Regions from separate parts of the Homo sapiens genome. Here region 2 is reported to be linked to region 1. Evidence: microRNA targets listed by miRTarBase, many of them from high-throughput screens and not tested one by one. Region 1 holds a microRNA gene; the other region holds the end of a gene's coding sequence.
Evidence for each region. The annotated mature microRNA hsa-miR-609 reads AGGGUGUUUCUCUCAUCUCU and lies in region 1 at 2,285-2,304, shown strand. An mRNA with a match to its seed (bases 2 to 7 or 8) in the 3' UTR can be bound and repressed. Matches are read on the target gene's strand: a 7mer-m8 pairs with bases 2 to 8, a 7mer-A1 pairs with bases 2 to 7 and ends in A, and an 8mer does both.

Region 2: the mRNA of SMC1A is a reported target of hsa-miR-609. Seed matches in the 3' UTR shown: 7mer-m8 at 1,336-1,342.

What each region holds. Positions count from the first base shown.
Region 1 is chr10:104,214,030-104,221,152 of GRCh38, reverse strand. It overlaps MIR609 (microRNA 609), which reads left to right and starts at 2,270; the gene lies at 2,270-2,364. CFAP43 (cilia and flagella associated protein 43) reads left to right here. Exons shown (of 38, transcript NM_025145.7): 4 at 6,727-6,894.
Region 2 is chrX:53,373,748-53,380,864 of GRCh38, reverse strand. It overlaps SMC1A (structural maintenance of chromosomes 1A), which reads left to right. Exons shown (of 25, transcript NM_006306.4): 24 at 135-245; 25 at 679-6,716. The coding sequence ends at 762. Among named protein-coding and RNA genes, the nearest start is that of MIR6857, 28 kb to the left of the region's middle.

The DNA of each region.
Region 1 (7,123 bases):
AAATACAAAAATTAGCCAGAGTGGTGGTGGGTGCCTGTAATCCCAGCTACTCAGGAGGCTGAGGCAGGAGAATCACTTGAACCTGGGAAGCAGAGGTTGCAGTGAGCCAAGGTCATGCCACTGCACTCCAGCCTGGGTGACAGAGCGAGACTCCGTCTCAAACACACACACACACACACACACACACACACACACACACACACGCTCACTCATATAGAGTTAGAAAAAGTAGTGGTTACATAAAATTTCTAGGTTAGATATGTGAATGATTATCTTTCCAGAGGTCTCTAAAACCTTAGGACCTTAAACTTAACTGTTCTACCAGGGCATACAATCATAGCATTGAACATGTTCTAGAGTTTAACCTGTAAAAGCATGCCTGCCTTTATCACATCGAGGCTGTTAGTATGTATTATGACAACAAAGTTACATTCCCCAGGAGTGTCAGATATGGGGCAAAGCAAGGTACAAAGTCTGGTTTTTGTTCGAGGAGGCTTGCTGGAAAATGCTTCCCAGCATGATATGAGAAATCAAGCCAACACAATTTTTCTTTTTTCCAAGTTTCATTTTTTTTTTGTTCTTATAGCTACTTGCCTAAACTTATATAGTTGGTGAGTTGCTGAGTGGGCTTTAAACTCATTTGGTTTCTAAGCTCTTTTATAGCTTTCATTGATCTAAGGCACAATGGGAACCTGTAGTAGGGGCATCTCACATAGTCTGTTGGTGGAGGGGAATGGTCAGGGAAGGCTTCCTGGAAGGAGAGGTAATGTTTAAACAGATACTTCTATTAATTAGCTAGGCCTGCCATAGCAAAGTACCACAGACTGGGTGGCTTAAACAGCATGCGTATATTGCCTCCCAGTTCTGGAGACTAGAATTCTGAGATCAAGGTCTCAGCAGGGTTGGTTCCTACTGAGGGCTGTGAGAGAGAATCTGCCCCCGCGCCTCTCACCAACTTCTGCTCACTTGTTTGCTGGCAGTCCTTGGCTTACAGACACATCACCCAGATCTCTGCTTTTATTTTCACATGGCATTCTCCCTGTGTGTGTCTGTCTCCAAATGTTCCCTTTATATAAGAACACCAGACTTATTGGATTAGGGCCCATCCTAATGACTTCATTTTAACTTGATTACCCTCTGTAAAGATCATATTTCCAAATAAGGTCACATTCTGAGGTGCTGGGGGTTAGGATATTAACACGGGAATTTGGGGGAGGCACAGTTCAACCCATAGCAATACCTAAAGGATGAACAGGAATCAGCCTTGTGACGAGAAGAAAGAACATCCTAGGCAGAGGAATGGCATGTGCAAAGGCCATGAAGTAGAAAAAGCACAGCAGGTTTCAATGAAAAGGTCATGATAACGGGAACAAGAGATTTGCCATGAGAGAGGCAAGCTTGGAGGGACAGTCAGAGGTGAGCTTATGAGCAGCCCTATATGTAGGTGACCATGTGGTTTATCATCCAAATCAGGATGCTTTTGAGAGTGAAAGAGGGTGTTGCTGATGAATGCAGGGCACTTTAGCCTAAACTGGGTTTCTCCTAGGCATACTGGGAAGGATACTCACACTCCATATAAGCTAGGCTAATGGACAAATTCTTTATCCTAAAGGCAGTGGGGAGCTACTAAAGGGTTTTAAGCAGGGAAGTGACACAATTATATCTGCATTTAAGAAGATTCCTTTCAGCCAATTATTTCCAATGAAAGTATCTCCAATACTTTCGTACTGTGGAAGGTATATTGGAAGGAAACAAGGCATGAACATCAATTAGGAGGCTGTGGTGGTCCAGGTGAGAGATGACTGTGTCATGGACTAGGGTGGGAGTAGGGATGGAGGGAAGTGAAACTATTTGGGAGGTGTTTAGGAGGTAGCATCATGAGACTTGTAACTGACTAAATATTGGGTGTCGTGCTGAGGAAGAGGGATGGGTCTAGGGTTATATCCAGAGTTGCGTGTGACTTGGGCAACTTAGGGACACTCTGATGCTATTCAGAGAGATACTGAGGGCTTGGGGGCAGGGAATTTAGGGGAGGCAATGGGGGAAGATGAGCTGGGGGACAAACTGAACTGAGAGTGCTTGAGATGAACAAACGGAGATGTCTAGTTGGCAGCTGATATATCAGTTAGGACTTAGGTTCATTTGTGGTCACAGAAACCCAAATCACCAACATGTGTTTCCTTCTGTCACATGCAGTTGTCTGGGCACGAGCAGCTGTGGTTGGTGTGGTGGCTCCTCGGGGTCAGCGTCCAGTCTCCCGCTGTCATGCTGCTCGGCTGTTCCTAGGGTGTTTCTCTCATCTCTGGTCTATAATGGGTTAAATAGTAGAGATGAGGGCAACACCCTAGGAACAGCAGAGGAACCCTAAACCACCGGTGTATTTTGGGAGCCAATGGGGAGGGAAAAGGATGAGGGGAAGGGCACAAACCTTCTGTTGAAATGCAGGGCTTGCATGAAAGAGATCATTGCCTGACCCAGGGACTACCTCAAGGGCTTTTGGTGAGGACAAGTGACAGTAGGAAGATGCAAGAGCCTTTAGTACCAAGGTTCTCAACACTGACTACATGCTGGAATGACTTGTGAAGCTTTTAAAAAATGTTAGTGCCCACTCTTCCCCTCTCCCCTCGGCCAGTTAAATCAGAACCTCAGAGAGCAATGTGCCTTGAGATGCCTTGAACCACTGCTTGAGAAGGAAGGACAAACACATTATTACCTTGGAAGAATTGCATAAGGCTTATGACTTGAAAAAAAATTCTTTTTGGAAACACAAGCATTTCTTTCCTTTTTTTTTTTTTTTTTTTTTTTGAGACACAGTCTCACTCTGTCACCCAAGCTGGAGTGCAGTGGTGCGATCTCGGCTCACTGCAACCTCTGCCTCCCGGGTTCACGCCATTCTCCTGCCTCAGCCTCCCGAGTAGCTGGGACTACAGGCACCCGCCACCACGCCCAGCTAATTTTTTGTATTTTTAGTAGAGACGGGGTTTCACCGTGTTAGCCAGGATGGTCTCAATCTCCTGACCTCATGAGCCGCCCGCCTCAGCCTCCCAAAGTGCTGGGATTACAGGCGTGAGCCACTGCGCCCGGCCTTGGAAACACAAGCATTTCTTTAAGAATGACCAGGTGTTGCCATATGTATTTACGGCGCAAGCAAGTGTTGTCTAAGCAGTTTCTCTGTTTGCTTGTCATAGCAACATTTAGAAACTCGAACATGCTTTCATTTATGTAAATAGTTTATGAAGCTTTGACAACAAATGTAAACAGACCTGAAATTATAAATCTGCTAAATTTGTATTAAGGGTATTAATTATTGAGAGAAAGTCCCCTTCCTCCACACTCAACTCCTATGGCAATTATGAACTCCATTTTACCCAGAACACTTAAGTGCCTCAGCATCTGTATGATACAGTGGAGCAGGTGCTGGCATAGGTACCAGCTGACCTGATGTATCACTAGCTCTGCAGGATGATTGCCACATACATGGAACACCTGGGAGTGCTGGAAATGTACCGGGATCGAAGCTACAAAGTGTGTTTTCATTCGCAGTGGAGGCCATGTCAAGCAACGGAAGGTCCAGCCCTCTTGCGGGTGTGGTGAGAGGCTCTACTAGCAAAGACATGGGTGCCGGAGTGGGTCCTATGTAGCATGCGAGTGCTGTAGAGAAAATTCAGTGATGTACATGGCTCTGATCCTGGACACAAAATCTATACTGGAGAGGAAATGACTGCTGAAATAAGGAAATTGTATGAATATTTAAAATGCCTGGAACACTAAAGTAATGATATTTCAAAAAGAAAGAAAAAGAAAGAAAGAAAGAAAAGAAAAGAAAAAGAAAGAAAGAAAAAAATGCAAGGCTTGGAAGGTGCACACATGACTGCCACTAACATTCATTGACTGGCTCGGCCATAAGCCACAGCCAGCTTCAAGGGTGGCTAGGTAATATTAGGTCCTCATTGTGAGTGGCCATATGTGCCTGGCTAATATTCAGGGGGTTCTGTTACTCAGAGGGAGAAATGGAGAATAAATGCTGAGGGACACATGCCCTTGCCACAGATATCCAGGACTGGTGCTCAGGAGAGAGGGCTGGAGATAAACATTTGGGAATAATTAAGTCAATGGATAGCCAAAGTGTGAAATGTAAGTAAGAACACCTCAAGAAGAGCCTAGGGTGGAACCTTGAGGAATATCAATGGAAGGGACCCACCTAGGAGACTCATAGGAGTAGCTATGAAAGGAGGAAGGACACTAGGCAGGGAGGGTTCCAGAATGTGCCTCAGCCTGGTTCCTTGGAAAGCAGAGGCTGAGGCAAGAGCTCATGCATCCCATCTTTAGCAGGGTGTGTGATCCCAGGGCAGGAGAGCCAGTATGAGGGCGTATTACCTTGCTGGCCACCACTTGGTACCGAGTGCAACTGGTTACTCTATCTCGAAGGTGGTCTTCTGAGAGGTTCTATGAACTGCTATGAATCAGGACAGTCCTCAGGCAGTGACAGACTGTGGGTGGGGAAGGGGAGAGGAGGAGATGAGAATTTATCCACCAACTCCTGTATCCCATCGATTGAAGCTTCACTGCACAGGGTGGTAATTCCTTCACACTTTCAGGTTTGTCGTGATTGTCCCCAGGAGCCCCAGTGAAGCCCCAGTGAAGCCACTGGGCGTGTGAAGTGGGTGTGAGGCGAGGCACAGGTGGGGTGTGCCTACATGAAGTTAGTCAAAGTGCACACACAGTTGGACAGCCACTGAGTCAGCGAGGCAGAAGACGGGGTCAAGGGCCCAGACACAATAGAGAGGATCTGTGGTGTCCCATAAGAGGTGTGTGACAGAGAGTCTAAGAGTGATTCCAGAAGGTGGTTGTGGTGAACAGTGCCCAGTTCTGCAGAGGTAAAGTTAGGCAATGACTGAGAAGTGCCTTTTGGATTTAGGATGAAGGCAGGTATCTGTGGATATAGCTATGTCAATGGAATGGTGGTGACAGGATGCAGGTATCCTGGGATGAGGAAAGTGTAGCTGAGGAAGCCATGGCGGTGACTTTAGAACAACTTGCTCAAAAAGTTTGACTCTGAGGAGAGGGGAGAGACATAGAAAGGTAAGACTGAGGGAAGGCTTCTTTTGAGGATGGTATGGATGAGCACTTGTGTGTTGGCAGGAAGAAGTCAGGCTAGAGGGAGAGTTGGAAGATGCAGTTATCCTGAGTAAACCAATGTCCCTAAGAAGGCAAGACTGTGGGACCCAGAGCACAGGTGGTGGAATTGGCCTTAGGTAGGAGGAAGGACACACCTTCCATTGTAAGGGGAGAGGAGGCGGAGAGAACCATGCAGACCCAAATGGGTAGTTATACTTGAGAGCAAGAATTCTCAGCTGATGGCCTCTATTTTATTCATGGGAATCAAAGCCATTTACTGAGATTGAGAAGGGAGTAGAGGGGCTAGAGGTTTCGGGAGAGGGGAGAATATTTTAAATGCCCATTTTAGAGAATGAGAGAGAGAGAACTGGCCAGAGAAACATAGCAGGATTGGAGATCCTATTGAGGGTCTGGTGGGGGGTGGCAACCACAAGTTTATGGTGTCACTGCCATGCACAGTCCTGTAGTCTTTGTTCCCATGTCTCTAGCAGCCCAGGCTTTCAGTTGTCTCCATCCAGGGATGACGGTCTTTGCCAGGTACCTGATGCAAAAAGTCAAAGGATCAAGGGAACCAGAGATTCCAGCAAGAGTGTGGTTGATGTGTTGGGCAGGGCATTTGTGATAGGGAATGAAGGATGAGGGCAGGAGGGAGTGAAAGGCAAGCTAAGCTCAATCAATATTAGCTCCAGTTTCCTAATCACAACTCTGAATGGAGTTCTGGCCCCTCATTTGAGGGCATAGCTCACATTTAATTTTTTTCTTTTCCTTCATCTAGCAAGGGACTTTGTTCATGGTAGGAGTTCAGGATATTCTCTTAAATGGGTAAATGAATAAATCCATTTTAAAATACACCACTTTATTTATTTATTTATTTATTTATTTATTTATTTATTTATTTTTGAGATGGAGTCTTGCTCTGTTGCCCAGGCTGGAGTGCAGTGGCACAATCTTGGCTCACTGCAACCTCCGCCTCCCAGGTTCAAGCGATGCTCCTGCCTCAGCCTCCCAAGTAGCTGGGATTACAGGCGTGTGCCACCATACCCAGCTAATTTTTGTATTTTTAGTAGAGACAGGTTTCACCATATTGGCCAGGCTGGTCTTGAACTCCTGACCTCGTGATCCACCCGCTTTGGCCTCCCAAAGTGCTGGGATTACAGGCGTGAGCCACCGCGCCTGGCACCACTTTAATTTTAAAAACTCAATAAATGATCAATTGGCATCGATGAGAACAGTACCCCCAGATCCATATGGAGTACTCACATGTAGTACTTACAGATTCAGGCACTTACACTTGTTTTGTAGCAAATGTGATGATATATTTCATTTTCTAGGTTTGGCTGAGTTAAATTGCAAAATTATTAAAGAAGATAAAATAGCCTTGGTATAGCATATGACAGTATAGTGTTTTTAAAACATAGTTTTTTTGCTTTCTTAGGATACAATACAATGATAAGCATAATTATTTATAAATTTGACATTAAGGTCATTGATTATATAAATTGTATCATAAATTATATCCCAATTTATGTAAATTAAAAAATAGATAAATGTTCTAAATACATGAAATTCAAATGAACTTTTTTTCATCAAATGCTATTTTTCTCTAAGGAACTGGGAATCGAGTATCATTTTGTGTAAGAAATCACAGCCTGGAATGGATGTGAACCAAATGTCTTTTAACCCCATGAACTGGCGCCAGCTGTGCTTATCAAGTCCAAGTACAGTGAGCGTGTGGACCATTGAAAGAAGTAACCAGGAGCATTGTTTCAGAGCAAGGTAGGAGCCTTTGTTACAACAGTAGCAACATGGTGGTCTTTGTTTGCATTCGTGTAATGTGATTGGGTCAATTTGATGAATTAAGTGGCTTTATACATACATATATATGCATACACACACATACACACACATACGTTCAGCTTATCTTGTTATAACATCTTTCTACATGCGTGATTACCTTGGAGTGGTTGTTTGCATTTCAAAAGAATTCTCTATGACTTGTTTCCCA
Region 2 (7,117 bases), not on the chromosome of region 1:
AGTCTCCTCTCAACCTCTCTTTTCCCCACCTTCCTCTCCCTACCCTACCTCTTCTGCCTTCTGGTTGTGGCTGGAAAATACTGGGGACTGTTAAGGTTTGAGCCTTGCTAAGTGCCTGGCGGCCTTTCCCACAGGTGGCAAATTACATCAAGGAGCAGTCGACTTGCAACTTCCAGGCCATCGTCATCTCTCTCAAGGAGGAGTTCTACACCAAGGCCGAGAGCCTCATTGGAGTCTATCCTGAGGTAGGGCGGGCCTGGCTCAGGAGCCAGTCCTACTCCCTGCCTGATTTCCCAGGGCAGGAAAGGAAGGCTGCAGTGGAGGGGAAAGGAGGTGGGGGAGCATAGGGAATCAGGTCCTGAATGGCCATTTGGGCTTGTTGGAGCCCTGCCTCTGGAGGCTTAGCCAGCCCAGCCAGGCAGGGCCATTGCATTTGGGGACAGGTGGAAAGGCAGGCAGAGGCAGCCAGACAGTGGAGAAAGGAGGAGAGTACAGAAGTAGGCAAGGAGCGAAGGCACATGGGACTGAGCATATCCTCTCACACCCAGAGAGAACCATTGACTGGGCTTTGGGCAGGTATGTAGGGAGGAGGGTTTGAGGCCCCTGGTCCTGGGGCACTAGACCCCTCTTAATTCTCTCCTTACAATTTTATTTTTCTTTTTCTCCCTCCTCCTTCAGCAAGGGGACTGTGTGATCAGCAAAGTCCTGACCTTCGACCTCACCAAGTACCCAGATGCCAACCCCAACCCCAATGAGCAGTAGCAGTATTTTTGCCCTCCCGCCCTGTCTGGATCCCTAAGCTGTCCCTCTCCCAATCTCTGGATATTTGACTCCCAACCTTCCCCCTACCTCCTGGCCCTTTTTGGTGTAGTCATGGGATTTAGGCACTGCTAATCAAGCATGAAGAGGAACAGAGGTGATGTTAGGTCTGGAGCAAAAATTCCTGAACGACAGGGAGTATTCTGGCCTCTGAAAGGAGGTGCTGAGCTGAACAGGGCCATCTGTTCATCACACACACCCCCTTCCTCCCCCTCATCACCCATAATCGTGGGCCCCTTGGGCCTCTTGCCCACTGTGTGTGTGGGTATGTATGTGTGTATGTATGTATCCGCATGTGTGCATGTGAGTATGTTTGCAAAATAATAAAGGATATTGGAGACCTGTTTTAGAAGGAGCCTAGGCTGAATTTGATTCCAAGAGAGCTTAGGATGACAGCACCCCTGAGCTGGGCAAAGGTACTCAGGACCTCATAGGAGTCTTAGGCAGTTACCTGAAACTGCCTTCATTCACTCATTTGTGTATTCATTCATTTATGTATTCATCAGACACATACCGAACACCCTCTATTTGTCAGGCTCTGTGCTTGGAATACAGAGTTGAATCAGACATGATCTCTACCCTCCTAGTAAGGAGATACAGTGGGTTCATGAATGACTATAGTTAGCTGAATGTCATATGTACTTTGAATTTGAGAAGTGGGTGATCCCCTCTAGGCTTCCTGGAGGTCACATTTAAGCTAGACCTTGACAAATTGGTAGGATTTGGTCAGGCACTAGGAGTGGAGCATGAGCTCTGGGGACAGACAGTTATGGGTTCTGGTCCCACTTTTTATCACTTACTAGTTGTTTGACCTTGGGCAAGTCATTTGACCTTCTGTGCCTCAGTTTCCTCATCTGTAAAATGGGGCTAACAATATTACCTACCTCATAGGATTTAATGATGTCAAGCTCCTCACTGGAGGCCTTATCCCTTCGTGGAGCCCACTAGGTGCCGACCCCTCAGAATATAACCCTCATGCCTGGACCCCTGAGAGCTTCTGATCCCAGCTATTAGGGACAGAAGAAGCCTCCAAATCTGGAAGGTGCTGAATGCCCTGCTGACTGGGAAAGTTTCAGGGCACTGATGGGGTCTACCTGGTAAGCGGAGGGCCTGAGGAAACCTGTAGCTTCAATCATGTCTGGTAACCGGGTGCCTGAGCCCCAATCTGGGTTGTGAGGAAATAGGGGAGAGGTATCCTGGGCCACATCCCAGCCTAACACCTGTGAGGTTCATTTTAGGAACTAACCTCATTAGCTATAAGGATCATGCAGAGGCAGCAAAGCCGGGTGCGATGAGCTCAGCCTTTACTCATTCACATACACCATCACACTTTAATTCCAATCTGTATATTGCTTTTTAAAAGTTAAGTCCATTCTAATTACCCAAATATGCATGAATTCATTCTCCTTTTGAGAAGTTAGATTGTTAAAGATAGTCTCATTCAGCTACCAACCACTCCTTGATCCTTCCCTTCTTAGTGGCTGTTGTTTGTTGTACTTCCGTTTAGACTTTGTTTTAATGCTTGTACGTACATATGTGAACTCATTGGAAATATTGTGTGTTTAATGCAAATGATATATTGAATTGTTTAGCAATTTGTTTTCTTTGCTTAACGATGTTTTTGAGATCTGTGCATGTTACTTAATGTAGCTCAATCCATCTTCTGTAATTGCTGTATAGATTGTCATCATATGATTACCACATTTTACTTACGCATTTCTTTTGTGATGGACATTAAGACTGTTTTTAGGTTTTGCTATTACAAAATACTACACAGGAGCATCACTATGCCTGTGTGAAAGTATATGTATGAAAGTTTACCTAGGGTTGATTCCTAGAAGTGGAATTGCAAAGTCATAGGATATTTATATATTGGTTTTTAATAATACTTCCAAATTGCCCTCCTGTACTATTTACTCAGTATTTTTCTTGAGGTTGATCTGAGGTCTAACATTGTTATCCTATATCATTTTCATCCCAAGTAGTGATATCTGTGAAATCACAGGTTTGATGTGTGCTAATTATGTATTCTTCTAATACATATTAAAAGACATAACTATCAAAACAAAATAAATTTGTCTGTTTTCAACCAAAGAAGTCACGTACCACTGGTGGTACTGTGTGCCATAATTTGGCAAATGCTGGCCTTTATGGACGAGCACAATTCGGGGGTCAGACCTGGTTCAAATTCTAGCTGTAGAAACTTGTGCAAGTTACTTCACCTCTGAGCCTAAGTTTCCACATCTGTAAAAGGAGATAATAAACACCTACCTTGCAGTAGTGAAGCAAAGAGAAAATTAAATATATATGAAGCAATTTGGCTGGCATCTAGATCATTCACAGCCCTTTAAAGGTCACCTTTGCTGTTCTCCCCACTTTACAGATAAGGAAACTGAGGCCCAAAAAGGTTTGAACCCAGGTCTTCCAAGTCATTCAAGTGCTTTCTCCACTGTACAGGTGGTTATCAACCTTGGCTGCGCATCAGAATCGTTTGTAAAGCTTTTTCTTTTTCCTTTTTAAAAAGTAAAGCAATATATACACAGGTAAAAAAATAAAATAGTACAGAAGGGCTTATAATGAGAAGCAGCAGTTCCCTGCTTGCACCCCCACATCCAAAGGATGTGGAGCTCTTTAAAAATAAATTGCTCTGGTCCCACCTCTGGAAATCTGATTCAGCCAGCATGGATAATAACCCAGATAACTAACCCCTACCTCACAGGATAAAAAGGATTACATGAGATGCCTTAGGCTAAGGCCCTGGCACACAGGAACACATGTGCTACAAAGGAGCTTTGGGGACTTAAGTCCTGAGGATCCAGGAGGTGAGGTGACTTGTCCAAGATTCCACTGGTTTAGTGGCAGAGCCTAGACTTCCACTCGGATCTATTTAGTGCTTGCCCCCTGCTCTCTCCTGTCGTGCCCCACCACCTCCTGGCATCACAGGGCAACCGTTGTCAAGGCTATGCTCACGGGAGGCTGGGCACCACAGTGTTTCCAAGAGCAAGCTGGATCCGAGTAGATTCCCTAGGGCTTGTTGGAGGAACTAGTTTGACTCCCTTATACTGTGGACGCAGTAGCCTTGCTGTAGGGAGTTGAAGAGTACTCCACAACAGTATCTTAAGTTTAACTGGGCACTTCCCTCTGGAAATCACAGTGTTGTGCACCAGGAACACAAAGATGAGTCAAATCTTTATCCTGCCTTTGAGGAGCTCACTGTTTAGTTGGGGAAACCATTTGTAAAACAGCCATTAACCATACAGTGTGATCAACACTGACAGGAGCACAGGAAAAACATCTAGCTTATGTGAAGATTCAGAGAAGGCATCCTGTAGTCTAGGTGGTGATACCTGAACTGAGTCTTGAGGGACGGGTAGGAATTAGCCAGTTGAGGAAGTAGAAGGAATTTCCAGATATTGGAAACAGTATGCATGAAGACATGAAGGCAAGAAACAGCAAAACAAATACTGAAGCATGAAGATTCCTGGGGTGGGGGGAAAGCAGCAAGAAAAGGTAGAGAGGAACCAGATTGGAAGAGGGTCGTAAATGCATGGCTACAGAATTCAGATTTGTTTTGTAGGACAGTGTGGTTCCCAAACTGGCTGTATACCACAAACAGGTACGGCATTCTGGGCCCCGGCCCCTAAAACATTCATTAAGTCTGGGGTGAAGATTTGGAATCTTGAATGCTTATAAAGGTTACCACATGACTAGGGTACAGCCAGATTTGGAAACCATAGCTTGAAGGCAGTGAGGGAGCCATGAAATGGTTTTTAATAGGGGGACTCCAGATCAGATGTGAACTTAACCTGTTTCTGGCTGGCTAGCCAACCAGCATGGAAAACAGATTAGGTTAGATGTTCATGCTGTATGTGCCCGTGCCTGTAGCTTCCCTGTTAATCAGCTTCTTACACTACTATATTTGCTTATTTTGTCTCTGAATAAGCTTTAGGCACCACAAGGGTGGGCCTGGGGATATTTTGCTTACCAGTATAGCCCCTGCAAAAAAGCACAGTGCCTGACACAAAACAGGCACCCAGTAAAGTTTTTGAATGAATGAATGCATGAGTGAATCCATTTGTGAGAGAGCGAATGGAGATGACAAGATTAGCTAGGAGACTGGAAAAAGACCAGGAGGCCTGCACTAGGGCAAAGGCCAGTAGGAATAGATTGGAGGTGTTAAGGTGTGAACTGTTAAGGTAAGATGATAACTTAATGACTGATTATTGGATGTGGAGGGTGACTGAGAGGATAGAATGAGTACCCATGAATAGCCATGATTCCTACCCTGTCCCAGTCATCTCTTTCCTTATCCATCTCTGAAACAATCTGCTTACATCCTCCTCAGCAACTGGAATTCCTCAAGTTAGTTAGACATTCTGTGTGCTGTGTGGTCTCTCACTGCCCCCCCACTCCCCACCCCTCCACAAGCCATTGATTCATTCATCCAGTTCAATAAATCTTGGCTAAGCACCTCCAGTGTGCAGTAAGGCTCTTCCAAGCCAGGACTCTGACTCCCTCTTTCCTACCTCAAGAGATGTTTTTGAGGGCTTTCCCAGGTAAGAGTCACATCTCTTATACAATAACTTATAGTGAGATACCCAGAATGTCAGACTTGTAAGGGAAGACTGCCCAAACCCCTTCTGAGGTCCTCAGAGGGGAATTAACTTCCTAAGGTCCGACTGCTAGGAAGTGTTGGAGCCAGAAATGGAAGCTAGGTTTCCTTTCTATGTCATCTCTGGAGTCTTGATCTTGATCTATCCCATTGTAGATCAGGACAGGCAGAGGTGGTCAGGGAGAAGGTGGGACTTAGGTTGAACCTTGAAGGTCAATGTATTGGACAGGTCAAACAAGATGGTTGCCAATTACACTGCCCCCTTCTGGAAACCCTTAGCAAACCTGCCATGCTTGCAGTCCCTTCTAAGGGGTTTCCTTAGCATAAGTTGCCATGCTCTGTACCATGTGACCTCACAATCCTGGCCACAGATAGCTAGATGTGGATAGTGTCTGGTTCAAGGGCAACCAATCTCTAGGCTGGCCAGTGGCCTGTTAGCTGGACTGGCATAAGGACTTCACCTTACAGGGGTGGCATGTATCAAATGGCAAATGTATGAAACAACCAGATCTTTCAGGGAGGCAGAATGTGAGCTATTCAGAAGAAGTGAACGTTAATTAGAATTTAATGAGGCATTAGTGGTGGTGGATGAGGGGTGGCCAGAAACTAAACAGCAAAAGCAAAGAGAAAGCTGCAGAAACCATAAGTAAGCAGAGGTCATGAGACATTTGTATAATGAGATCACGGAGCCACAGGGTGGCAGAAGCCATGAAGCAGCAAGGCAACAATGGGCTAGAAGCCATGAAGCAATAGGAGCCACGAGGAACAGAAACCGTGAGACAAAACTGACTATGAGATCCACAAAGCAGCAGAAGGCTTGAATAGATAAGATCATGAGACAGTAGAAGCGATGAGACTGCAAGAACCACAAGGTAGCCAGAACCATGTGGCAACATGGCAACAGGAATGGAAGAGGCAGCAGGAGCTACAATGCAGAAAAGCCATGGATTAATAGGAACTGAAGCGCCGGGAGCCATGAAGCTGCAGGACCCATGAGGCAGAAAAAGCCATGGGCTAGCATCGAGGGGGGCAGAAAGAAGTTAGTCAGTAGCAGTAGGAGGAGTATAAATACAGCCAGAAAGGAGTTGAGTCACCAATTTGGGAAGCACTAGAGAAGGGAGCAACAGATGCCTGCAGCTGAGGGGGTGACAAGATAAGCCAGGCTCTAGAGCTGCTTTGGATCATGAACCATTTTCAAGTTTCTGTTCTTCCATGAGGCTGCCTGTGTAGCTGTTCTTGTCTTCCTTATTTCCCTGTGAATGCTTTAATAAATCCCCATCACTAACCTGTGTGTGTCTTTGTTCCTTGGAATCTAAAAGGTTAACACTGGTGTGCAGTTTAGATAACAGGAAAGCAGGGCAAGAGGTCTTCCTGGTGGGGTTGAAGCAAGACACAGAGGTGGGAATTCACTCATCCTTTCCTGCCTCACTGGCATGGGCACCTTTCATTCACTTACTTATTTTTATCATTCATTCATCCACTCATTTATTTATTACCTTATATATGCACTAACTCACAACTTCACTCACTTATTCATTAATGCATTAATGTAAGCATTTACCAGTTCATTTGCTCTTTCCTGTATTCACTCATGCATCATTTTTCCATCCATTTGTTCAGCAGGCATATGTTAAATTCCTGTCATGTGTCAGGCCCTGTGCTAGGTTCTGGGAATTAGATATACAT